7 linked regions of the Homo sapiens genome follow. The protein of the gene in region 1 interacts with the protein of each later gene in a biochemical or structural test. Each region holds a gene or a part of one and is shown in the gene's direction. Other genes may lie near its edges. The genes, in order: MTMR1, RADIL, PARD3B, RAPGEF6, SHANK1, PDZRN4 and HTRA3.

Region 1 (3,500 bases):
AAGTATCTATTCTTGTCCTTTGCCCACTTTTTAATGGGGTTGTTTGTGTTTTTTCTTGTAAATTTGTTAAATTCCTTATAGATGCTGGATATTAGACCTTTGTCAGATGCATAGTTTGCAAATATTTTCTCCCATTCTGTAGGCTGTTTACTTTGTTGATAGTTTCTTTTGCTGTGCGGAAGCTCTTTAGTTTCATTAGATTCCATTTGTCAACTTTTGCTTTTATTGTGATTGCTTTTGGCATCTTTATCATGAAATCTTTGCCAGTTCCTATGTCCAGAATGGTACTGCCTAGGTTGTCTTCCAGGGTTTTTACAGATTTGGGTTATACATTTAGGTCTCTAATCCATCTTGAATTGATTTTTGTATATGGTGTAAGGAAGGGATCCAGTTTCAGTCATCTGCATATAGCTAGCTAATTATCCCAGCACCATTTGTTGAATAAGGAATTCTTTCCCTATTGCTTGCTTTTGTTGAAGATCAGAGGGTTGTAGGTGTGCACCCTTATTTCTGGGCGCTCTATTCTGTTCCACTTGTCTATGTGTGTCTGTTTTTGTACCAGTACCATGCTGTTTTGGTTACTGTGGGCCTGTAGTATAGTTTGAAGTCTGGTAACATGATGCCTCCAGCTTTGTTCTTTTTGCTTAGGATTGCCTTGGCTATTCTTTTTGGTTCCATATGAATTTTTAAATAGTTTTTTTCTAGTTCTGGGAATGTCATTGGTAGTTTGATAGGAATGGCATTGAATCTATAAATTGCTTTGGGCAGTATGGCCATTTTCACGATATTGATTGTTCCTATCCATGAGCATGGAATGTGTTTCCATTTGTTTATGTCATCTCTAATTTCTTCGAGCAGTATTTTGTAATTCTCATTGTACAGATCTTTCACCTCCCTGGGTAGCCATATTCCTAGGTATTTTATTCTTTTTGTGGCTATTGTGAATGGGATTGCATTCCTGATTTGGCTGTTGGCCTGGCTGTTGTTAGTGTATAGGAATGCTAGTGATTTTTGTATGCTGATTTTGTATCCTGAAACTTTATCAAAGTTGTTTATCAGCTGAAGGAGCTTTTGGGTCGAGACTATGGGGTTTTTACTTTTTAGAATTCTATTTTATGTCCTGTGATTGCATATTAGCTATAATTGTTTGTTTTGTTATGTAACTAGTTATTTTACATCTTTATGTCTACCTTCAAATGATTGTATGCTGCTTCATGTACAGGATAAGAACCTTATAGTAGTATACTCCCATTTGTCCCCTCCTACCCTTTATGCTGTTGTTGTCATCCATTTTACTTTTACATATGTTATAAACCCCACAATATATTGTTTTTGTTTTTGTTTAAACAGTTATCTTTTAAGGATAATGATAATAATGCCTTAGTCTCCTACAGAAGCACTTGCCAATCCACTCCCTGCCAACTTCTCTGGCCTCATATTCGACTGTCCTCACTGCACCCATTGATCCAGGCATACTAACCTCTAACAACTTATCACTGTGCCCTTCCTCCCTTCCTTCTCTTACTCCCCCTACCCACTTTCCTATTGAGTTAAGTTGATCCTTTTCTGAACTTCCATTGTAATACTTTGTGTCCACATTGTTATTTTAGCTTTTGTCAACCTCTAGTGCAGGGATCCCCAACCCATGGGCCGTGGATCAGCACTGGTCCATGGCCTGTTAGGAACGGGGCTGCACAGCAGGAGGTGAGCAGCGGGCTAGTGAGCATTATCGCCTGAGCTCCGTCTCCTGTCGGATCAGCGGTGGCATTAGATTCTCACAGGAGCGTGAACCCTGTTGTGAATTGCGCATGTGAGGAATCTAGGTTGTATGTTCCTTATGAGGGTCTAATGCCTGATAATCTGAGGTGAAACAGTTTCATCCTGAAACCATCCCCCTACCTCTGCCCTGGTCCATGGAACAGTTGTCTTCCATGAAACCAGTCCCTGGTGCCGAAAAGGTTGGGGACCTCTGCTCTAGTATAATGGCGATTTTTCTGTGTGGTATCTCTCACAGGTCATGGGCTGCTCATGGACAGGAACTTCTTCCAATTATACCCAGAATCCCAGCAATAGAAGGCTCTCAGTACATAAGGAGTATAGAAAAGTTCAATGGAAGTATTCTGAGAATTTGGTTCAATGACGTTAATGCCTTTTGTTGTCTCACTTGGACTCATATATAGCTATGTATATTCTTGTCATTCCAGTGGAATGGCACTTTGGGAAAACATGAAGATGTGGTATCTTTGTGATAGAAGTGAGCTTCTTAACACTAATGGGAATTAAATATGTCACGCACTTAATAGATATTGACAAAAAATTAAAACTGATAAGGGGATAAGGAATTTGAAATAAGTCTTTTTCCATTTCATTGATGTGGTTCTAGGTTTTGTCTTCTGTAAAAAGAGTTTCCTTTGGAGATGCATTAGGAGACAATCTTTAGTTTTCATTAGTTTTAAGTAGCAGTAATTCATGAAACAGTAGCCCAGGGTTTTCAGAGTTTAATTAATGTTTTGAATATGATTAATTTATCACCCAGGGAAAATGTTAACTACCTAGGAAAAATGACAGAATATAACTTCTTATGAGGCCCTTTACTTAAAACCTCATTAAGTAGCAAATCAGAATTTTGTTTTAAAAAATTGAAATTTATTAGAAGACTATGCATCTCTCTATATTGAAAGTCATAATTGATATAATCCTATAAAATACAAAATTCCTGGAAAACTGGAATCACAAATATATATTTGGAAAACTCGTGTTAAGTTTTATGGAAGCACAAGTCTATGGCAGTAGTTGCTACTTTGGCCTTTTTCTTTCAGTGAAAGATGTCATGTATATCTGCCCATTTATGGGAGCAGTGAGTGGAACCCTGACAGTGACGGACTTTAAGCTGTACTTCAAAAATGTCGAGAGGGTGAGTTTTTTAAAGTGTGTTTTATTTTAAAAGAAACACTTTTAAAAGAACACTAAAAGAAGAAAGTAAAAAGTCCCCTGAAATCCCATTACCCTGAGATAACCACAGGTTGGATTTTGAGATGCACACATTTGCAAACAGATGTTTGTATCTTGAAAACAAAGGCTGTTAAAGTACCGCTTAAACCTGGAGGGGAAATTCCATTGTTGTCTCAATATATATTTCACAAGGAATGCTGTCAATCAGACTTCAATTTAGCTGGGACAAAGAGGAAATGCGAAGTAAACAAACATGTTTTGTAACCCAGCAAAGACTTAAAATATGAAAACTGTTGACTGACACTAATAGGCATTGATCTTAATTTTTGAACCTAGGACCCGCATTTTATCCTTGATGTTCCCCTTGGAGTGATCAGCAGAGTGGAGAAGATTGGAGCACAGAGCCATGGAGACAATTCCTGTGGTATAGAGATAGTGTGCAAGGTATAATAGAAACGCCAAGTGAAAACTAAAAGAGGGCAATCAGCTCTGAACTTTTTCTCCCTCAGTCTCTTCATGGTCTTTGGACAGTAGAATAATTTGTACTG
Region 2 (3,500 bases), on another chromosome or scaffold:
CCTCCGGCCCCTCGTTGGAGGCTGGCAGCCTGGCCCTTCTGCACACATGCAGGCCTACCCAGCACCAGGAAGGAGACCCTGGGAGTGGCCCCTGCGTGTCAGCATTGGTTCCGACCTGCAGAGAGCCCAGCCCTGGGCCTCAGGAGGCTGTGGAGCCTTGCCTGGAGGAGCAGGGTACACTCAGCTGCGAGCCACTTGCCTGGGGCTGCAGCCCCAGGGGACACAGGCCTGGGACATCCCGTGCCGCATTTGTGGCCAGGTCCTCTGGGAGCCCCTGGGACTCTAGGAGGAGAAGCAACCCTTCCTGCCCCATGGCCCTGGGACTTCCAGCAGGTCACTCTGAGGTCACCTCCTACAACCTGGCCCTGGATTTGGGAGAAAGTTGAGGGCCGGAGCATCATTTGGAGCTGTTTTTGTTCTTCTTTCGGATCTGGCCCCATAGTTGTGCAATGAGGCTGAGCTGTGGGGCTGGTAACGCTTGTGGGAGTGGCGGGTGGGATGAGGTAGGGGAACTGGGCCCCACCTGCTGGGCACCTGCCGCCTGCCAGGCTGGGCCGGGTTCTGCAGGCGGCAGGAGCACGGGTGGTGAGCAGCCCAGCCCAGCAGCCTCGCACTGCGGCTGGGCGGCCTCCCTCACGCCCTGGCCCCCTGCGGGCTGCAGATGCACAGGCTGCCGGCTGCCTTGGGAAGGACGGCGGGGCTGCTGGCGCTGGTAAGGGTCTTCCTCAGCCAGCTGACGCCTCCCTCCATCCGGCTTTTGTTTGGTTTTATTGGGAATGGTTGGAGGAAAGGCCGCCACAGATGGGGATGGATCTTAACCTGAAAGGCTGCGTACAGGGAACTCAGCAGAGGGCTCAGAAAAGACAGCGCCGGGTCAGCTGGGGACTGGTGAGCGGTTTTCATCTATCGCAGCCGGCTGGCTTTCCCAGAGCATGCATTTAGAGAGCGTGTCTGTATTTATGAGATATTAAGTCTTCTAAGGGTGTGTGTTATCTCTGAACTGTGCGCATGTTTGTGTGCATGTATGTGTTAATGTGTGTGGGTGCATGTGTGTTGGCGTGTGTGTATGTGTGTGCATGTGTGTTTTTGGGTGCATGTGTGTGCATGTGTGTGTGCATTTTTGTGTGGGTGCATGTGTATTTGTGGGCATGTGTATGCACACGTGTGTTTGTGTGTGTGCCTGCTTTGGCTTGGGGGTATCAGAGACAGCCTTGGGAAGGAGGCAGCGATGCTGTTGCAGGAGCAGGCCATCGGCAGCCCCATGGGCTGGGGTGATGTGGCACAGTGACACCTCCTCCTTGTAAAGTAGGGGCAGGATGCTGACCAGTCCGTCTCGTCTCGTCAGAGCACCACCCCCAGGGGAGTTTCGCCTGGTGCACAGATGGATGGGGCAGGGCTCTGGAGGCGGCGTGGTGACCCTGCAGAGGCCCAGGCTGCCGTGGGAAAACGTCTGTGGTTTGAGGCCTGTGGGCCGTGGTGCTGGCTGGTCGGGCAGGCCGCGGTGTGACCCTGGGCTGCTGCAGGGGAGGCGTGGTCCCCTCAGCCTGAGGATTTGACAGGCAGGCTGCCTGCTCTGAGACTGTTCTGTGGGTGCCACGGTGGTGCCAAGGCACTGTCTGGTTTTTCGAGGGGCGTGGCTAGAGGGCAGAGTCCTTGAGTCTCCACCAGACCTGTTTTGACAGAACAGTAACGGCATTAGGAGACGTGGCTTAGTGGGATTTGAACTCAGAAGGACCCGGGACATGGGCGCTATTAGACTTACCTGTTTTTTTTGGCGGGGGATGGAGTTTCGCTCTTGTCACCCAGGCTGGAGTGCAGTGGTGCAATCTCAGCTCACTGCCACCTCCGCCTCCTGGGTTTAAGCCATTCTCGTGCCTCAGCCTCCTGAGTAGCTGGGATTACAGATGCGCACCACCACGCCCAACTCATTTTTGTATTTTTAGTAGAAATGGGGTTTCACTGTGTTGGCCAGGCTGGTCTCGAGCTCCTGACCTCAGGCGATCCCCCCACCTCGGCCTCCCAAAGTGCTGGGATTACAGGGGTGAGCCACCGCGCCCAGTCCTGGTGCTATGAGACTTCTAACTGTTCACCTTGTGTTGCTTCTGTTCCAGGGATAAACGCCCAGGCCCGGAGGCTGCAGCGGAGTCGCGCGAAGGGAACCCCGACCCCGGCCCTGGGGGATGCCCGGAGCTCTCCTCCACCCCGGTTGCGCCGCACAGTCAGTGAGACCAGCCTGAGCCCAGTGAACGCCCTGCCCGCTGCCGCCCAGGGCCCCGAGGAGCCCGGCCCCGACGCCATGCGGTACTCGCTGTACCAGTCCCCGCATCTGCTCCTTCTGCAGGGCTACAGCCAGCAGCACGTGAGCCTCCCCTCCTGACACCCACTGCCCGGTGCCACTGCAGGGACAGCAGGCGGGACTCAGAAGTCAAGGCCTCCGCCTGCCTTTAGCCCAGTCGGCCGCGAGCTCTGTGGCTGCAGCCCCTCTGGCTGTGCCGAGGCTGTGGAGTGGGATGGCGGGGGCACATGTGGAGTCATCCACATTTTCCCTGTCCAGGCCACGGTGGGCGGCAGTGGGGGCTCCTCACTTCCCCAATCCCAGAGTGGGTGCCCTCAGCACCAGGCGCCTTCAGGGAGAACTCCTCACGCCTTCCCAGCCTTGGTCTCCCGCCTGGCTCTGGGGAAGGGCATGGGCAGTTGGCCAGGGCCAGTCTGCTTCCTGCTTCTGGCGAGGGGGCTGCTGAGTCACCAATTGGTGGCCACATTCTCTGAAGGGGCACCGAGCAAAGGCCCATGCCACCCCTATCTGCCCAGAGCCGTTTCTCACCACTTCCATCAGAGCAGGCAGGCTGTCGCCCCGAGCAAATGCCAGGCGCAGGGCCACCTCGCCTCACCTTGCCGGACACTTGCCCTGCCAGACAACTGTTTTCCCCGCCCCCTGCTCACCCTACCCCCGCCCTCCTGTGCAGCCAGCTCCTTTGCTGCTCATTTCCATGAGCACTTTACAGCCATAGGGCTCCTGTGCCCAGGTTTTAGGTGGCATCTTCCCTCGGGGCAGTGCTCTCACACAGGCGGCAGTGCTCCCACACTGGGGGTGGTGCTCCCACACAGGCGGCAGTGCTCCCACACAGTTTTGGGGATGACTTGGGGGAAGTTATGTAGTCCTTGGCCCGGTCTGTAGAACCAGTGCCTGTTTCCCGGCCAGCCCTGACCTGGCCTGTCGCTGTCTCAAAGCTGGGTGTCTCCTGGGTCTCTCGTGTGCTCCTCCGGGAAACCGACCTCCTCTGGGATGGGCCCGGACATCGAGGGGCGGGTTCCTGAGAGCCGTCGGGGTTCTGGTGTGGGGGTGGCCAGGGACATGGAGAGCCCGTGGCGACAGCATCCCAGCCACGCTGCTTCAGCAACCAGTGACTAGACACGGGACGCTTTTCCCGTGTGCTGCTCGCGTTACGCCTGCCCTGAGCGGAGTCTCTGTTTCAGGACAGCCTGGTGTATGTGCTCAA
Region 3 (3,500 bases), on another chromosome or scaffold:
ATTTTGGCTAAAACCAAAAAGCCTGATTCAGAAATGTAGTTTTATTATAAGTTCATGGTTAACTGTTCAGTAACTTGGTGAAATAGTTCTATTATTTATTTTTTGCTATCCACCAGTATTATAGGAAGGAAATTTAATTAAAAAACATTAAAAATGCTATGGAAGTGGAGACATGAGCCAATAAAAGTTAAGGAGTAATGAGTACAGGCTGAAACAGCACGCTTAACTCAACCCATGTGTCTAGATGCAACTGTGTATAGAGCATGTCAGACAAGTGTCTGACTTCATAATGCCATATGGTTTCACTGTGTGAGCACAGGGGCTTCGTTAAGGTCATAGTGGTATACTTTGCTCTTAATTTCCTTCCATTTATTGGTTTGTGCCATTATTTTAAATTAGAATTTACATTTAATTTTTTTACTAAGATTACTGTAATTGGCTTTGCCTCCAATGTATTTTTTTATTTTTTTTTCTTTTAGAAAAATGTTGCCACACCTGTTGTTGAATAAGAAACCTAATCTAAGTTAGATCATCCTAATAAGTAAATTATAGTGGCTGCTCTGCTAGATAAAGCCTCAATGAATTCATTAGATACCATCGCAGAGGGGTGCTGAATGCTGCTTGTATTGAGGGCCATTGGCTTTCCCAGTAAAAACAAAGCAAACATAAAAAAAACACCAAAGTTCTTGCAACTAAAATGCAACTTAATTTTATTCAGATTTTTAAAATCAATGTGGTTTTTGTGAATTAAAAACATGAAATCTAATTCGTTTCAGTACAGATGCATAATATGCCTCAGTTTCATAGGGAAGACAGCTAAACAGGAGAGAGAAGGAGAAGGACTGGATGAAGGCTGATAAAGACTGTGAGAAGAGATGTTCAAACCAAAATTCTAAGCTGGTAGAGTCACTGAGGCTGTGTGACATTGGGAAAAGAACAGGAAGGGGGCAAGGAGAAGATGTTGGTGCCTAAATGATAATTAGAAGAGCAAGAAGAATTGTTACCCCTCTAATTCTGTGAGGCTGTGGATTTCAGCATCCTTTATCACTGTTCATTAATGCAAATTAACTGGTTAGTCTCGGCCTATAACTCCTCGACAGCATTAATCTTTAAATTCTGCGAGTCTTGGTCCCAAATGAGACAGCTACCACAGCCCACCAGTTCAGGGCAAAGAGGATAATGAGGTATTGTTTTCTGAGCCTTCTTGTATTGGTCTGGATGAAATCAAACTGGAGGGAATCTATCCCTTCCACGGAGCAGAGAGGGCAGAAGTGGTTTGTTGCCAGGGACCAAACTAATAAAATCAGTCAGTTTTACATTTTACCAAAATTACCTCTGACACATGGGTTTTACAGTTGGGCTTATTCTGTCAATAAATTTTTCATGGAAAGTTAGATTATTTAGATCAGTGAGGTTCACATAGCATACTCCAGCTGTAATATGCCAGCTAAATTGCAACCCAGTGGCCCGAAAGAATTAATTCATCTCCCAAAATGTGAAATTAAATCCTAGGGAGTAACATTACATGACTGATGATGTACTGAATTAAATTAAAGGAAGACTTGAATGCTTGTTAAAAAAATATCACTTACATAAACACGTTTATAACCACATGTGAGCCTCCTAATGAATCAAGTTATTGTGAATCCACCCTAACAAAAATCCAAAATGTGAACTCTTAGGATGCTGTTTAATTTAGGGAAAAAACCCATAAGTTTTATCTATTATTTTAATGTGTCAAATAGTTTCATTTTTAATACTGTGTTTCAAGATTAAAGTAACACAGAATATGACTAATTTGCTAACCTACTGGAACTAGGAAATGAACCACAAGACCCCACTGCACACTTGTGCCTATGACCCTGAGCCTTCCCTGCAGTAGATGGCATGGCTGTTTGCTGTTCTTTCTCCTGCAGCAGCGTGCTGTATTCATTTAACATTTTGAAGTGAGACCCAAATATCACTGCCATGCCTGTTGAGGTCTTGAGATGATGGGAGCTCATTAAGGGGACAGAGGTTCAACTCCGTGGCCACTCCAAACAGGAGGACTACTTTCTCTAATACTTGCATTGTAGATTCCCCTTTTCTATGGCTGACCCTGTTATTTACACATAAAATGTACTCATGTTTTATTTAGGTTTGAAATTTAATGTGAAGGTATTTTGTAATAGCACACATGGATTTTATACAAAAGAGAGTGACAAAGTCGAAAAGCAAGAGTATTGATAAAGTGCAGATCACAGTTTCTCCAAATGTAGCAGACTCCTCTTGCAGGACATATCTATCTTTCTTACTCTGGACACAGCTAAGCCTTGTCACATCACGAGGAGAAGGGAAATCCCACAAATAAGAAATAATGAAAATATGTATAAGTTCCATTTCTTACGGTTTTTGGTTTAGTTTTGGTTTATATATGTAACAGAATTGTGTATGTATGTGTGTACACACACACACACACACACATACACACACACATATTTTAATTCTAGTGGCTATAGTTTTCTTTCTTCTTTCCTTCTCTTCCAACCCTCCTGATTCTAAGCTACAGCCACAAAAATCCAGAGGCCTCTTTGTATCCTCTCTAATTTAGCCTCTTCTTGGTTGAAATTTTGGACAACTCTTCCCAAAGCCTGCCTTCATCATGTCGCTGCCCTACTCGGAAGCGGGGTCTGCTAGATGCCCCCCTCCAGGTCCATCAGATTAAGTTCATTGGCTGTTTGTTCAAAGCCTTTGTGTGTGGCACTGGTCTCCCATCTAGTTAGCTCTCAAATCTTTGAAGGCTCTAGGCTTGTTAATGTCTTTAGTTTTTGGACTTCAGCTGTCCCCCAAATGTATAGTGAAATTACCTGGTCCTGGTCCTATGACTTTGTCTCATACTCCTCCATCCTGATCACACAGGAAACACCCAACACATACTTGATTTGGTAGCACCAACAAATGGGATCCAGCTTCCTTCTAAACTGAGTAATATGATCTGAGCTTAAATGTTTCTTTACTTCTTAAAATGCAAATTTTTAGAATAGGTAGTAAGACTGCAAAAATGTTACTGTGAATATCCTAATGCTCTCCCACTGCTAAACATCACGTTGCCACGTTGGCACTAACTCAGACTTACTATAGTCAGGTGTGATGCCCTTCTCCAAACCACAAGTCTTTGGTGTCAACTCCAGTAAACTAGCCTTTCAATAAGTTTACTGCAAGCATGAGAAATGAAGTCGCAGATTGATGTTGGTACTTATGCATATTTATCTAGAAGGGCTTTTTCTCTTGTAGTCAGTTTTGGCTTTTTTTGGATTAGGGATTAAAATAACAAACAGTTGCCTGAATATAAAGTAAAATTTCTTTTGTAAATAGAAATCAATATGTATTTCTGAATAGTTGCAAGTGGAGAAATAATTAGCATTTATTATTCAGTAATTATATTTCAATCTAAATTTTGCATTTAGGATTCTAGGACTCTTCATCCGAGGCATTGAAGACAACAGCAGGTCCAAGCGGGA
Region 4 (3,500 bases), on another chromosome or scaffold:
CACAACTACTCTGCTATTACACCAGAATAGCCATAGACAACACATAAACAAATGGCATGACTGTGTCCCAGTAAAACTTTTTTTTTTTTTTAAGGCGGAGTCTCGCTCTGTGAGACAGAGTGTCACTCTTGTTGCCCAGGCTGGAGTGCACTGGCGCGATCTCGGCTCACTGCAAGCTCCGCCTCCTGGGTTCACGCTGTTCTCCTGCCTCAGCCTCCCGAGTAGCTGGGACTACAGGCGCCCACCACCACGCCCGGCTAATTTTTTGTATTTTTAGTAGAGACAGGGTTTCACCATGTTAGCCAGGATGGTCTCGATCTCCTGACCTCGTGATCCGCCCGCCTCGGCCTCCCAAAGTGCTGGGATTACAGGCGTGAGCCACCACGCCCAGCCAAAACTTTATTTACAAAAACGAGCAAAGAGACCACCAGATTTGGCCCTGGGCTGTAGTTTGCTACCCCCTGCACTATACTGTAAATGAGGGGTTTACAAACTTTTTTTTGTGAAGGGCTGGGTAGTAAATATTTTCGCCTCTGCAATCTACATATAGTCTCTGTCACAAATTCTTCTGGTTTGGTTTTGTTTTCTTTTCTTTTTTAACCTTTTAAAAGGTTAAAAAACAGAACTATTCTTTGCTCCAGACCATACAAAAATAGGCTGTTGGCTAAATTTGGCCCATGAGCTTTAGTTTGGGGACCCCTGCTATAAATTATTCATTTCATGGGTAATTGGGGAAGTTGCTGTTTACTTGGCACTGTACTGGGCTAACCTCAGAGGTACGTTGAAAAATAAAACATGATTCTTCAAGTTGGGAACTCTTAATTCTGTATGCATGGACGCAGTAGTCTAATATTGTGATGACCAAAAATGAATATGTATACTTAACCTTATTCATTTCAACTCTCATCTTTACATTTTCATTTAAAATCAGTTCAAGAAAAATACTTGCCAGGCATACCTCTGGTCCATCCCAGCTGCTGGGGAGGCTGAGGCGGGAGGATCACTTGAGCCCAGGAGTTAAAAGCTGCAGTGCATCATGATCGTGCCTGTAAATAACCACTGCACTCTGGTCTGGGCAACAGAGTGACACCCTGTCTCGAAAAAAAAAAAAATATCTAACATTTTAAAATTTAAAAAGAAAAATTCTAAGGAAATTTTGCTAAGCATTAGAGTTTCTTTACTGTGTCTTCTGAGTGTTAACTAAATACTTACAAGGAATATAGTGATGAATGATGATAATATTGTTTTCCTCACGATGTTATTTGGCATGAACACTTGTGGTACGTGCTCTGTAGTTTCTCACAGGCAATAATAACTTGAAACAGAGAGAAGATAGTTTTTCTGGCAAGCCTTCTAATTGTACGTTATCTCCAATTTTAGGTGGACACTCTTGAAGCCATCTCTAATCAAGTGTTTAGCTGTCTCATCGTCTGTGAGCAATGAAGAGATTTCTCAAGAGCATATCATTATAGAAGCAGCTGACAGTGGTCGTGGAAGTTGGACTTCGTGTTCAAGCAGCTCCCATGACAACTTCCAAAGCCTTCCAAACCCAAAAAGCTGGGATTTTTTGAACTCTTACAGACATACCCATTTGGATGACCCCATTGCTGAAGTTGAACCCACTGACTCTGAGCCCTATTCCTGTTCTAAAAGCTGCTCTAGAACTTGTGGGCAGTGTAAAGGAAGCCTAGAGAGAAAGAGTTGGACCTCCTCCAGTTCTCTGTCTGACACGTATGAACCAAACTATGGGACAGTTAAACAGAGAGTATTGGAGAGCACCCCAGCTGAGTCATCTGAAGGCTTGGACCCCAAGGATGCCACTGACCCAGTTTATAAAACTGTCACTTCAAGTACAGAAAAGGGCTTGATTGGTAAGTTGTGTTTTTGTTGTCTGTGGCATTTAGAGATTAAGTAGTCAAAAAATGGCATTGGGATATCTTGGCCCTGGATTTTATCGTCGCAAAAATTCATTCTCTAACAACCTTTCTTTCCTTCACAAACAAACAAGTTATTTCCCAAAAATTCATGGTTTCTCAAAGACTTTGGAGCAGCTATTCAACCCCATTAAAATGAAAAGTCTGATGTGAAGGTATTTAATTAGAGGGACAAGTTTGTTTGTCTTTTGTTTTTAAGTTCTTTTTGGTTTTATTGAGGAATATCATCGCATTAGTGTGCAATAGTAGTAAAGGGATTATTCTCTTTATCACCTCATAAATTGTTTGGACCACAATTGGTATGCATACGTGGTAGAAACATTGAATCTGCTATTGATTTTAGGTCGTAACAGTGAGAGAAAATGCAATCAGGAAGTCCAGAACATTTTTCAGTATACTCTCTTGGTGTACATCATGAGTGTGCCAACTCCTGTTTGTGAATTCCATTCCAAGCTTTCTTAGTAAACTTTTTTTTTTAGTATTTGGCCATCAAATACTTTTTAAAAATTTCTTTCCTAAACTATATAAATACGTGGATATAAAACTGCTTTTCTACTTATATGGAATGACTCTACTTTGAATTAATATCATAATCAACTGTTAAATTTATGCAACAGTCATGGTGTCGCATTTAACTACTAAAAATGTGAAGGTGAAATGTGCTGATTTTATAGTTACTTGTCAAATTGCATTATAGGTTGGGTTTTTAGCTCATTCATTTTTTTCCAACTTTTTTTTTTTTTTTTGAGATGGACTCTTGCTGTATTGCCCAGGCTGGAGTGCAGTGGCATGACCTCGGCTCACTGCAACCTTCGCCTGCCAGGTTCAAGCAATTCTCCTCTCTCAGCCTCCCAAGTAGCTGGGATTACAGGTGCCTGCCACCATGCCCAGCTAATTTTTTTATTTTTAGTAGAGATGGGGCTTCATGTTGGCCAGGCTGGTCTCAAACTTCTCACCTCAGGTGATCCACCCACTTCGGCCTCCAAAGTGCTGGGATTACAGGCGTGAACCACCGCACCTGGCCAGAAGTAAAGTTCTTGAAGGAATTAGTTCCTCCGTACCAGCAAAGTTAAAGTTTATATGCTAGGACTGAGAACTAATCTGCCCAGGAGTGCCAGAAAACATTGGTTCATGTCTCAGAGAGAAGGTGAAACAGCCCTTAAACAGATGGCCCAAATGTCATTTCTATGTAAAGTCTCCCAGTTTACAGAGAATCGGTGTGTAGGGTGAACTTTTAAATGTTTCTGATATCTTTAGGGCTGGTGTGACTTCAGGAGTTGTCATGTACTTCTGTGATATGGGGGCTGAATTGCAGAAGGAAGCTTGTCATCAGTGTCATCTCCTTCAACTCTCTCGTTCTATTTAATGTTTACAGGACTTAATATAGTTGTTTATGTATTTTAAAAAGAGGTTTGTTTATTAAACTTTTAAAAAATGTTTTTGATCTGCCATCATTCAAGTTTATTCATTTTGTCTATTTTTAAGTTGTATTTTGTCATTGTAATAAGTTTGTGGGGTGGTTTCTTTTTTTTTCCATTTCTTTTTCATTAACATTTTCATTGCTTA
Region 5 (3,500 bases), on another chromosome or scaffold:
GGCCCCGCCGCCCACCCCGCACCACCACTCGCCCCACGCCCACCACGAGCCAGTGCTGCGTCTCTGGGGGGCCTCCCCGCCGGACCCTGCGCGCCGGGAGCTGGGGTACAGGGCCGGGCTGGGCAGCCAGGAGAAGTCCCTTCCCGCCAGCCCGCCCGCCGCCCGGCGTTCCCTGCTACACCGCCTGCCGCCCACCGCTCCCGGGGTGGGGCCCCTCCTGCTGCAGCTGGGGACGGAGCCCCCGGCCCCGCACCCCGGAGTAAGCAAGCCCTGGAGGTCCGCAGCCCCCGAAGAACCCGAGCGGCTGCCGCTGCACGTGCGGTTCCTTGAAAACTGCCAGCCCCGGGCCCCTGTGACGAGCGGAAGGGGTCCCCCCTCGGAGGACGGGCCGGGGGTCCCGCCGCCCAGCCCACGCCGGTCCGTGCCCCCCTCCCCGACCTCCCCGAGGGCCAGCGAAGAGAACGGGCTGCCCCTGCTGGTCCTGCCGCCTCCCGCCCCCTCGGTGGATGTGGAAGATGGCGAATTCCTTTTCGTGGAACCGCTGCCTCCGCCTCTGGAATTCTCCAACAGCTTCGAAAAGCCAGAGTCGCCCCTCACGCCTGGGCCTCCCCACCCGCTGCCCGACACACCTGCCCCTGCCACCCCGTTACCCCCTGTGCCACCCCCGGCTGTGGCCGCAGCCCCTCCCACCCTGGACTCCACCGCATCCAGCCTGACATCCTATGACAGCGAGGTGGCCACCCTGACCCAGGGGGCCTCCGCCGCTCCTGGGGACCCCCATCCACCAGGCCCGCCTGCCCCAGCAGCACCGGCTCCCGCTGCCCCACAGCCTGGCCCGGACCCTCCGCCTGGCACGGATTCTGGCATCGAGGAGGTGGACAGTCGGAGCAGCAGTGACCACCCACTGGAGACCATCAGCAGCGCCTCCACGCTGAGCAGCCTATCTGCCGAAGGTGGTGGCAGCGCAGGGGGTGGGGGCGGGGCTGGGGCCGGTGTGGCCAGTGGGCCGGAGCTTCTGGACACCTATGTGGCCTACCTGGACGGCCAGGCCTTTGGGGGCAGCAGTACTCCCGGCCCGCCATACCCTCCTCAGCTCATGACTCCCTCTAAGCTCCGGGGCCGGGCGCTAGGAGCCAGCGGAGGCCTGCGGCCTGGCCCCAGCGGGGGACTCCGAGACCCTGTTACCCCCACCAGCCCCACCGTCTCGGTGACAGGGGCTGGAACCGATGGGCTGCTGGCCCTGCGTGCTTGTTCAGGACCCCCCACGGCAGGCGTGGCGGGGGGTCCGGTGGCTGTAGAGCCAGAAGTCCCACCGGTGCCCTTGCCGACGGCCTCCTCTCTGCCCCGGAAGCTGCTGCCCTGGGAGGAGGGCCCGGGCCCACCGCCACCACCTCTGCCCGGGCCCTTGGCCCAGCCTCAGGCCTCAGCCTTGGCCACAGTAAAAGCCAGCATCATCAGTGAACTCAGCTCCAAGCTTCAGCAGTTTGGGGGCTCCTCGGCAGCTGGCGGCGCTCTGCCCTGGGCCCGAGGAGGCAGTGGGGGAGGCGGAGACAGCCACCACGGGGGAGCCAGCTATGTCCCCGAGAGGACCTCCTCCCTGCAGCGGCAGAGGTAAGCGGGGGCTGGTGGCCAACAAGGGAGGCCAGAGGTGTTGATGGCATGGCTGTGTCCCTTTAGGGTCTCAGGGTGGCAGAAAGGAAACAGAAACCAGGTTGGCAGGAGTTTGCTGTCACAGAAGCATGCTTTCACAAATATTTTCTTTTTCTTTTTTTTTTTTTCTTTTCTTTTCTTGAGAGGGAGTTTCACTCTTGTTGCCCAGGCTGGAGTGCAATGGCGTGATCTCGGCTCACCACAACCTCTGCCTCCCGGGTTCAAGCGATTCTCCTGCCTCAGCCTCCCATGCCACCACACCCAGCTAATTTTGTATTTTTAGTAGAGATGGGGTTTCTCCATGTTGGTCAGGCTGGTCTCGAACTCCCAACCTCAGGTGATCCATCCGCCTTGGCCTCCCAAAGTGCTGGGATTACAGGCATGAGCCAACATGCCTGGCTTTTTTTTTTTTTTTAGAAACAGGGTCTCACTCTGTCACCCGGCTGGAGTGCAGTGGTGTAATCATAGCTCACTTGCAGCCTCAAACTCCTGGGCTCAAGCAATCCTCTGGGACTATAGGTGCACGCCACTATGCCTGGCCAATTTTTCTTTTCTTCTTCTTTTTTTTTTTTTTTTTTTTTTTTTTGAGACAGAGTCTCACTCTATTGCCCAGGCTGGAGTGCAGTGGTACAATCTCAGCTCACTGCAACTTCTGCCTCCCAGGTTCAAACGATTCTCCAGCCTCAGCCTCCTGAGTAGCTGCGATTACAGGTGCCCGCCACCATGCCCGGCAAATTTTTGTATTTTTAGTAGAGATGAGGGGTTTTGCCACGTGGGCCAGGCTGGTCTTGAACTCCTGACCTAAGGTGATTCATCCCACCTCGGTCTCCCAAAGTGCTGAGATTCCACACATGAGCCAGCATGCCTGGCCCTGGCCATTTTTTCTTTAACTTTTTGTAGAGACAAGCTACGTTGACCAGGCTAGTTTCAAACTCCTGGGCTTAAGTGATCCTCCTGCCTTGACCTCCCAAAGTGTGATTACAGGTGTAAGCCACTGGGTCCAGCCTTTAAATTTCCATTTATTTCAGTAGCTTCTGTTGTCTCTGCCCATCACCATCACAACCTACATCCCATGATGAACAAAAAGTTATTAACAGGCTGGGCGTGGTGGTTCACGCCTGTAATCCCAGCACTTTGGGAGGCTGAGGCGGGTGGATCATGAGGTCAGAAGATCGAGACCATCCTGGCTAACACGGTGAAACCCCATCTCTACTAAAAAAAATACAAAAAATTAGCCGGTCATGGTGGTGGGCACCTGTAGTCCTAGCTCCTCAGTAGGCTGAGGCAGGAGAATAACTTGAACCCGGGAGGCCGAGGTTGCAGTGAGCCAAGATTGCACCACTGTGCTCCAGCCTGGGTGACAGAGTGAGACTCCGTCTCAAAAAAAAAAAGTTATTAACAAAGGAGACTGGAGTGAGACCTGCTTATGTTTGTTTCCTTGGTGAGCTGCCACTTCTTTCTGACAGTCCCTGAAATCTGTGAGTCCCTTGAAGCCAGTGTGGTTCAAGACAGGATGCAGTTATAGGTGTGGTTCTAGAGCCCACCTTCTCAGCTTCCAGTCCCAACCCTGCACTTTCTACCTGGGTGATCTTAGGCAAATGAATCCACCTCTCTGTAGAAGTGGAATGGCCTAGTGCCAGCCCAAAGAGTTTTTGAGAGGATTTAGTGTGTGCCATTGTTGTAACATGGGATGGGGGAAGAGGGGGCCTCGAACAAGAGCCCAGCAACTTCTACGTGGGGAAATACGGGATGATGCAGATGCTTCCCAGAGCAGCCAGTCAGCTGCATCGTCGCAGAATTCGAGCCCATTCAAGACCTTCTAGTCCTAGAGAAAGTAGAGTTACATTTCT
Region 6 (3,500 bases), on another chromosome or scaffold:
TCTACATCCAATGGAGCATGAATTTTATGAGGACAATGAGTATATTTCCAGCTTGCCTGCTGATGCAGACAGAACAGAAGACTTTGAATATGAGGTAAGGTCATTTTCATACCACTTCACATTTCTTCATGAAGTTACGGTTGAGGGGTTTTGTATAACAAAGAAATTAATTTATTACAGTGAGAAATGTCTTGTCTATTACATATCCAGTGTAAGATCTTTCAAATACTATTTGCTTTAGCTATGTGGCTCTCGTGTTTTAAGTATATTGGAAAATATTTTTATAGTATAAGCTTAAATATAATTTGCTCTCATTTTGTTGCTTTTTAATAAATAATATTGCAACAGCTACATTTTTAAAATCTGTTCTATAATATATGTGGATTTCCAAGTGGAGTTTGAAAAATATATTTAAAACAAAGATTGTGTTTACTATTTTCATTTGTTGTATAATATTCTAATTTTCATTGATAAACTAAATTTTATTATATTGTATTCTTTGGAAATGCAATACTCTCTTTGTGCCTCTGGTCTGTACTCTAAAGAGCCATTTCACAGACTTCCTAGAAATAGAGATGGCCTCATGCCCTTTGTTGTTAAACTATATTTATTCTTCACATGGTTTAATGTCAGAATATCTGTACTGTGATATATAACAATTCGAAAAGTCCATCCATTGATTATTTAAAAGCTCTCACAAAAGTTAAAGAATGTATCCTAATATTTCCTCTGCTTCTGCAGCCTGAATATCTTTGAAAGGTTTCAGACTACTCTGACATTTAAAAATAAAATAGATTGAGGAAGTAAAGAAGCTTTGGTAAACAGGCAGAGAACCCATGGTCACCTGCCCTTTTAATGCTTCAGGTGATGTCATACAAGTTCAGCAAAGTGTTCTCTTCCACTTTACAACCAGGAAATCCTGAAATCTCTTCCCTTAGGAGGATCTGAAATCAAATAAGGAAGCTCATCTAAAGCAAATGGACGTTTGTTTGAAATCTTCTCCCCACAAAAGTCATTCCTGGGGATTACAGAAATCATTATTTCTTTGCAGCCAAAATTTAGAAGGATGTGAAATGACAACTGGTAACTGAGTAGATGGTTTTTGTCATTCTTGTGTTGTTCATGTTAAATTTTTACCTCCTCTTTATTAAGTTGATTGAAAAGTTTTATTTTCTAAATCTACTCAAGCACTGACATGCATTACAATATCCATTGCTTTGTCTATTCATGTAAAATAAATTATAAAATTGAATGACTTATCCAAATAATTCAAGATTCTTATGTTTTCCTTTTGGTTAATGAATACTTTCAGTTTGGGGACTGGAATTATGTAGATCACTTCAACTTTTTATTTGGATGCCTTAAAGCTTTATTAAAATAAGTCAGTGTGCTCGGGGAGGGCATAGGGGAAGATTGTTTAGGCTAAGCAAGTTAACAGTAAAAGCCCTTTAAATGAATCAGCATGTCATTGAAATATTACAATACAGACAGATTTCCTTACATTTCTATGGAGCTTACTGTAACTGAACCACAACCTCTTTTTTGACCAATATTAATCCCCAGCAGAAGCCAGCATCAGGATGATGTCAGTGGTGAATTCTCAGACAAGCTCTCTGTAGCCTGTAATCTCAACTAATCACAGCATCATAGTCATTAATTTGCTGTCAGCTGTGATTCCGTTGCCAAAGGCTCCTTTCTGAGTGATTGAAATAAAGAATGTTCCTGTGAAATTCAAATAAGGAAGGAGTTGCTATGACAGTTTTCAATCATTAGAAAGGATGCATTTGAGAACAACATGCATGGTTAAAGGTGGGAGTGGAGGCATGGGAGAATACCTCCAGAGAAATTTACCAGATTCAAGAGAGAATAATGGTTCTGCCCAGTACTCCTCAGTCTGTTATCATTATGTGACACACACATAGAGTGGCACATGCCATCCCTTGTGGCTGCATCAAACTGCAAAATCTAGTCAGTCCACTGCCATCATTGGAGCCTGTGGTGGACACCATTAGGCTCATTCAGTGAAGAGATTTAGAAATGCTAATTCTGTCTATGTGTTGCACTTTTACTGTTACACCTAGAAGCAGACTGATCTGGTGTTTCTGTGACCAGCTGAGATGACCCTAGCTCCTCTAGGAGCTTCCTTATAACCCTATAGCTCTAGGAGCGGGATGGATGAGCACCTTAAGGAAGTACCAGTTTTGTGCCACTGAGAGAATATCACAGGAAAGTGAGGTTTAATGGCCAAGAAGACTTCAGCTCAGAAAGAGATATGCATTCCTCTTCAACCTAAACATGAGCACAACCAGGCAATCAAGGAAGTAGAAAGAAGACTCCTTTTTCATCTGCTTTCATTCATTTGTACCATAAATATTTAATGAGGACTTAAAATGTACCAGGCAGTTATCTATGCATGGGATTAGGAAGCTCCTGCCCCAGTGGAAGGAGCTTCTAGGAGAGGGAGGTCAACAATAAACATAAAAGTAAAGACATATTCTTTTCAATGGTGAGAAGTACTAATGGAAAATAATAAGAGTGGTGTTGGACAGGATGTTGCTGTCTTATACAGAGTGGTAATGCAAGACTTCTCTCATAAGAGAACTAAAGAATATAAGAGATCTAGCCATGTGAAAGGAGATTTTCAGAAAGAAGGAAGGGCAGGGGCAAAGGACCTGAAGCAGAAGCATGCTGGGGTGTACAAGGAGTAGCAAAGAGACCAGTGAGAGAGTGGAAGGGGTGAATTCAGAGAAAGGAGGGTGTGTTTTGTGGAGCCTTTGGCTTTGACCATGATATAGGAAGTTGCTTTGACTCTGAGATGGGAAGTTGCTGGAACATAGGAAAGCCATAACAGGATTACTCCAGCTGCTGGTCTGAGACTGACAGGAAGGAAGCAAAGTCAGCTGAGAGGGAGTGGGGTATTGGACCTGGGCGGTGATAGCGGGTGGAGTATGTATGACATAATCTAGGACAGCATCCACCCCAGCCTGGAGGGCTGTGCCTCAGAGCTTCAATATAGTTTGTGCTATGGCAATTTTCTTCTGACATTTTAATGGCAAAATATTACAGGTTAGAGTGAAGCACACCTTTTGGCATCCACCAGAGCAAGAGCAATGCATCCACACTTTAAAAGAAATAGCTTCTAGTATATAGACTGCATTTCTGAACTTGCTAAAATACAAACTATGCGGCTATTTAGGTGCCTTTTTAAAGACCTACTTACTATTAACTCAGTGAACCAAAGCTGATCTGTGTATCTCGTGAGTACTTATATACAGACTTAGTGCATGGATTATTAACCCAATAGACCAAAACAGATCTGACTATCTTGTAAATACATATTTAGGGACTTTTAACACACATATTATTTCACTGATGGACTGTAACAGGTCCCTTCAGAGCCACGGCAGACAAGCAAATGCTTCTTTGGAGATATTATACTCAGTGTCCATGTTATGGTGACTCTGGTGTGTTAGGAACCTCTATGAAAATTTAATGACACC
Region 7 (3,500 bases), on another chromosome or scaffold:
GACATTGCCACCATCAAGATCCATCCCAAGGTGGGTGGGCGTGGGTGGAGGGGCGGAAGCACCTGGGGCTGGGCATGGTGGCCTCTTCCCAGACGCCGGAACCCAGAGGCAAGCTAGCCCCACCTTCCATCAGCCAGGGGGAGGAAACTGGGCCCAGGGAGGACTGGCAGCTGGCCCAGGGTCACGGCTTGGAAAAGACCTAGAACCCAGGTCTTTGGACTCCTTGTCCTGCGCTCCCTGAGCCGCTAGGTGCAGGGCAGAGCCAGGAAGCATGTGGCCCACAGTGGGTGGGCTGTGGTCCCATATCACACCCCACGGAGGCTCTTCACTGTCTTACCTGGGCCCACTACTGGGGATGCACCTGCCCCATGGGATGGCATCTGGGTTTGGGCGTGGAGGCCAGGGGGCTGCCGTGGGGAACACTTGGGACAGGGACCCCATCCCTCCACCTTCACGTCTGTACCTCCCACCAGCTGACCCAGAAGAGGCCTGCACTGAGGCCCCCAGAATCCTCTTCTTCCTCCACCGGCTGTTTCTGGAAGGCCTGCTCTCAGCCAGGCGCTGACTGCACTCCTCTAATTCTCACCACAGGCCTGGGAGGAAAGGGCCTGTATGAGTCTGTTTTCACACTGCTATAAAGAACTACCTGAGACTGGGTCATTTATGAAGAAAAGAGGGTTCGTTGACTCAGAGTTCTGTAGGCTGTACAGGAAGCATGACCAGGAGGCCTCAGGAGACATACAATCATGACGGAAGGCAAAGGGGAAGCAGGGACATCTTCTCATGGCAGAGCCGGAGAGAGAGAGAGTGAAGTGGGACATGCCACACATTTTAAAACCATCAGATCTCGTGAGAACTCACCACCATGAGAACAGCATGGGGGAAGTCTGCCCCCATGATCCCATCACCTCCCACCAGGCCCGTCCCCCAACACATGGGGATTACAATTTGACATGAGATTTGGGTGGCGACACAGAGCCAAACCATATCAGGGACCTCATTATCTTGGGATTTCAGACGGGGCAACTGAGGCTTGGAAGTTAGGTAACTCGTCCAAGATCACAGCGCACTGGAGCAGGGCTGGCCCGCTCAGCTAGGACCCCGGCCTCCCTCCAGCTTGTTCTTGTCTTGCCCAATGCCATGCTTATGTGACCCTGGGGACCACAGTTGAGTTACTTGCAGCTCCCCATGCCATGAGGTCACTGAGTCCCATGTCTCACACCAGCGTTGGACCCGGAGCTTCCCTTGGACTGGGAAGTTCACCTTGGCTGGTTTGAATTTGGCTTCCTCTCTTTCTGAATGAACGTTTACAGCATTTGTGATGAAATCTTTTGCAAGGGGGTTTCCTCTTGCCCCATCAAGGGAGAGGAGATTTAATGGTTCCAAGGAGTTCCCCTAATGGGGACCCTTCCCTGCTTTTCAGACTTTTCACGGTCGCGATTGAGTCTGGGGGCATCACCTCCATTTTAAAGTTAAGGAAACCCACTGAGGGGTGTGCTCACGGACAGGAGTTGGCAAATTTTCTTTTCTTTTTTTTGAAATGGGGTTTTGCCCTTGTTGCCCAGGCTGGAGTGCAATGGCGTCATCTCGGCTCACCACAACCTCCGCCTCCCGGGTTCAAGCAATTCTCCTGCCTCAGCCCCCCGAGTAGCTAGGATCACAGGCATGTGCCACCACACTGGCCAATTTTTTTGTATTTTTAGTAGAGACGGGGTTTCTCCATGTTGGTCAGGCTGGTCTTGAACTCCCAACCACAGGTGATCCACCTGCCTTGGCCTCCCAAAGTACCGGGATTACAGGCGTGAACCACCGTGCCTAGCCTTTTTTTTTTTTTTTTGAGACGGGTTCTTGCTCTGTCACCCAGGCTGGAGTGCAGTAGCAGGATCTCGGCTCACTGCAACCTCCACCTCCCAGGTTCAAGTAATTCCCCTGTCTCAGTCTCCCAAGTAGCTGTGACTATAGGTGCATGCCACCACCCTCAGCTAATTTTTGTATTTTTAGTAGAGATGGGTTTCACCATGTTGGCCAGGCTGGTCTTGAACTCCTGACCTCAGGTGATCCCCTGCCTTGGCCTCCCAAAGTGCTAGGATTACAGGAATGAGCCACTGCACCCCACCCCCAAATTTTCCTTCCTTCCTTCCGTCCGTCCTTCCTTCCTTCCTTCCTTCCTTCCTTCCTTCCTCCCTTCCTCCCCCTCTCTCTCTCTTTTTTTTTTTTTCAGGGTCTCGCTCTGTTGCCCAGGCTGGAGTGCAGTGGCACAATCACAGCTCACTGCAGCGTCAAACTCCTGGGCTTAAGGGATCTTCCCACCTTGGCCTTCCATATAGCTAGGACTACAGGCATGCACCACCATACCTGGCTAATTTTTAAATTTTTGGTAGAGATAGGGTCTCGCTGTATTGCCCAGGCTGGTCTAGAACTCGTGGGCTCAAGCAATCCTCCTGCCTCGGCCTCCCAAAGTGTTGGGATTACAGGTGTGAGCCATGGTGCCCAGCCAACAAATTTTCCATGAAGCCAAATGGTAAATATTTTATCTTTGCAAGCCCTGTGGTCTCTGTCACAACCACGCATCTCTGCTGTGGCAAAAATGCAGCCTTAGGCTGCACAGGTGGGTGTGGCTGCGTTCCAGTGAAGCTTGATTCACAAAACAGGCAATGGACAGCGTTTGGGCCTTGGGCCAGTTTGCAACCCCCGCTCGAGGACCCCTGTGGGAAGAGGAGAGCGAGACTAGGGGCAGGTCTGTCTCCCCTTCCGGCGGCTGTGGCAGAATGCTGGCAGGACTGGTGGGGTGGTATCCAGGTGGGCCTGAGCAGGACGCCCCACCAGCCACCTGTGGCAAATGGGTGCCAGCAGAGCTAGTGTGATTCATGTCCTGCAGGCCCTGGTCAGCACCCATGGCCATGAGCTGAGGTGGGAAACGCCCTCCTAGCCCCTAGGCATTAAATCGAGCCATGGGAAAGGCTCCTGACCCTCACCTGTGCCCCCTCCTTGGGTGCAGGGAGGATGGCTGACCCTCCCCAGCTCACGGCCTCACCTGTGCACCCTCCTTGGGTGCAGGGAGGATGACTGACCCTCCCCAGCTCATGGCCTCACCTGTGCGCCCTCCTTGGGTGCAGGGAGGATGGGCTGACCCTCCCCAGCTCATGGCCTCACCTGTGCGCCCTCCTTGGGTGCAGGGAGGATGGGCTGACCCTCCCCAGTTCACGGCCTCACCTGTGCACCCTCCTTGGGTGCAGGGAGGACGGGCTGACCCTCCTCAGTTCACGGCCTCCCAGAGATTTCAGACGTTATTTCTGCCTCTTCGGCCGGTCAGCAATGGAAAATGTCATCTCTCCGGGCCCTCACCTTCCAATGTGCAGGCCTGGTTCCGCCACCTGGCATTCTCTCTGCCATTGACTGAAGCTTCTTGAGCACAGAGAATAGAGGAGCGGCCTGAGTCTTTCCCACACCAGCGCCCGCCCACCAAGGGCTCCCGTAATCCTGTGCGGGGCTCCACGTCG

What was found.
Region 2: the proteins of MTMR1 (region 1) and RADIL interact in a test that uses a peptide from one of them, tested with the Homo sapiens proteins (one large-scale study listed by IntAct).
Region 3: the proteins of MTMR1 (region 1) and PARD3B interact in a test that uses a peptide from one of them, tested with the Homo sapiens proteins (one large-scale study listed by IntAct).
Region 4: the proteins of MTMR1 (region 1) and RAPGEF6 interact in a test that uses a peptide from one of them, tested with the Homo sapiens proteins (one large-scale study listed by IntAct).
Region 5: the proteins of MTMR1 (region 1) and SHANK1 interact in a test that uses a peptide from one of them, tested with the Homo sapiens proteins (one large-scale study listed by IntAct).
Region 6: the proteins of MTMR1 (region 1) and PDZRN4 interact in a test that uses a peptide from one of them, tested with the Homo sapiens proteins (one large-scale study listed by IntAct).
Region 7: the proteins of MTMR1 (region 1) and HTRA3 interact in a test that uses a peptide from one of them, tested with the Homo sapiens proteins (one large-scale study listed by IntAct).

What each region holds. Positions count from the first base shown.
Region 1 is NC_000023.11:150,724,396-150,727,895, forward strand, and holds part of MTMR1 (phosphatidylinositol-3-phosphate phosphatase MTMR1), read left to right. Parts: intron 1-2,819; coding exon 2,820-2,914; intron 2,915-3,288; coding exon 3,289-3,396; intron 3,397-3,500. UniProt on the Homo sapiens protein: Lipid phosphatase that specifically dephosphorylates the D-3 position of phosphatidylinositol 3-phosphate, generating phosphatidylinositol. Could also dephosphorylate phosphatidylinositol 3,5-bisphosphate to produce phosphatidylinositol 5-phosphate.
Region 2 is NC_000007.14:4,835,217-4,838,716, reverse strand, and holds part of RADIL (ras-associating and dilute domain-containing protein), read left to right. Parts: intron 1-1,266; exon of another isoform or gene 1,267-1,329; intron 1,330-2,111; coding exon 2,112-2,359; intron 2,360-3,477; coding exon 3,478-3,500. UniProt on the Homo sapiens protein: Downstream effector of Rap required for cell adhesion and migration of neural crest precursors during development.
Region 3 is NC_000002.12:205,115,475-205,118,974, forward strand, and holds part of PARD3B (partitioning defective 3 homolog B), read left to right. Parts: intron 1-3,446; coding exon 3,447-3,500. UniProt on the Homo sapiens protein: Putative adapter protein involved in asymmetrical cell division and cell polarization processes. May play a role in the formation of epithelial tight junctions.
Region 4 is NC_000005.10:131,429,230-131,432,729, reverse strand, and holds part of RAPGEF6 (rap guanine nucleotide exchange factor 6), read left to right. Parts: intron 1-1,380; coding exon 1,381-1,871; intron 1,872-3,500. UniProt on the Homo sapiens protein: Guanine nucleotide exchange factor (GEF) for Rap1A, Rap2A and M-Ras GTPases. Does not interact with cAMP.
Region 5 is NC_000019.10:50,664,303-50,667,802, reverse strand, and holds part of SHANK1 (SH3 and multiple ankyrin repeat domains protein 1), read left to right. Parts: coding exon 1-1,611; intron 1,612-3,500. UniProt on the Homo sapiens protein: Seems to be an adapter protein in the postsynaptic density (PSD) of excitatory synapses that interconnects receptors of the postsynaptic membrane including NMDA-type and metabotropic glutamate receptors via complexes with GKAP/PSD-95 and Homer, respectively, and the actin-based cytoskeleton.
Region 6 is NC_000012.12:41,509,820-41,513,319, forward strand, and holds part of PDZRN4 (PDZ domain-containing RING finger protein 4), read left to right. Parts: coding exon 1-94; intron 95-3,500.
Region 7 is NC_000004.12:8,286,754-8,290,253, forward strand, and holds part of HTRA3 (serine protease HTRA3 isoform 1 precursor), read left to right. Parts: coding exon 1-30; intron 31-3,500. UniProt on the Homo sapiens protein: Serine protease that cleaves beta-casein/CSN2 as well as several extracellular matrix (ECM) proteoglycans such as decorin/DCN, biglycan/BGN and fibronectin/FN1.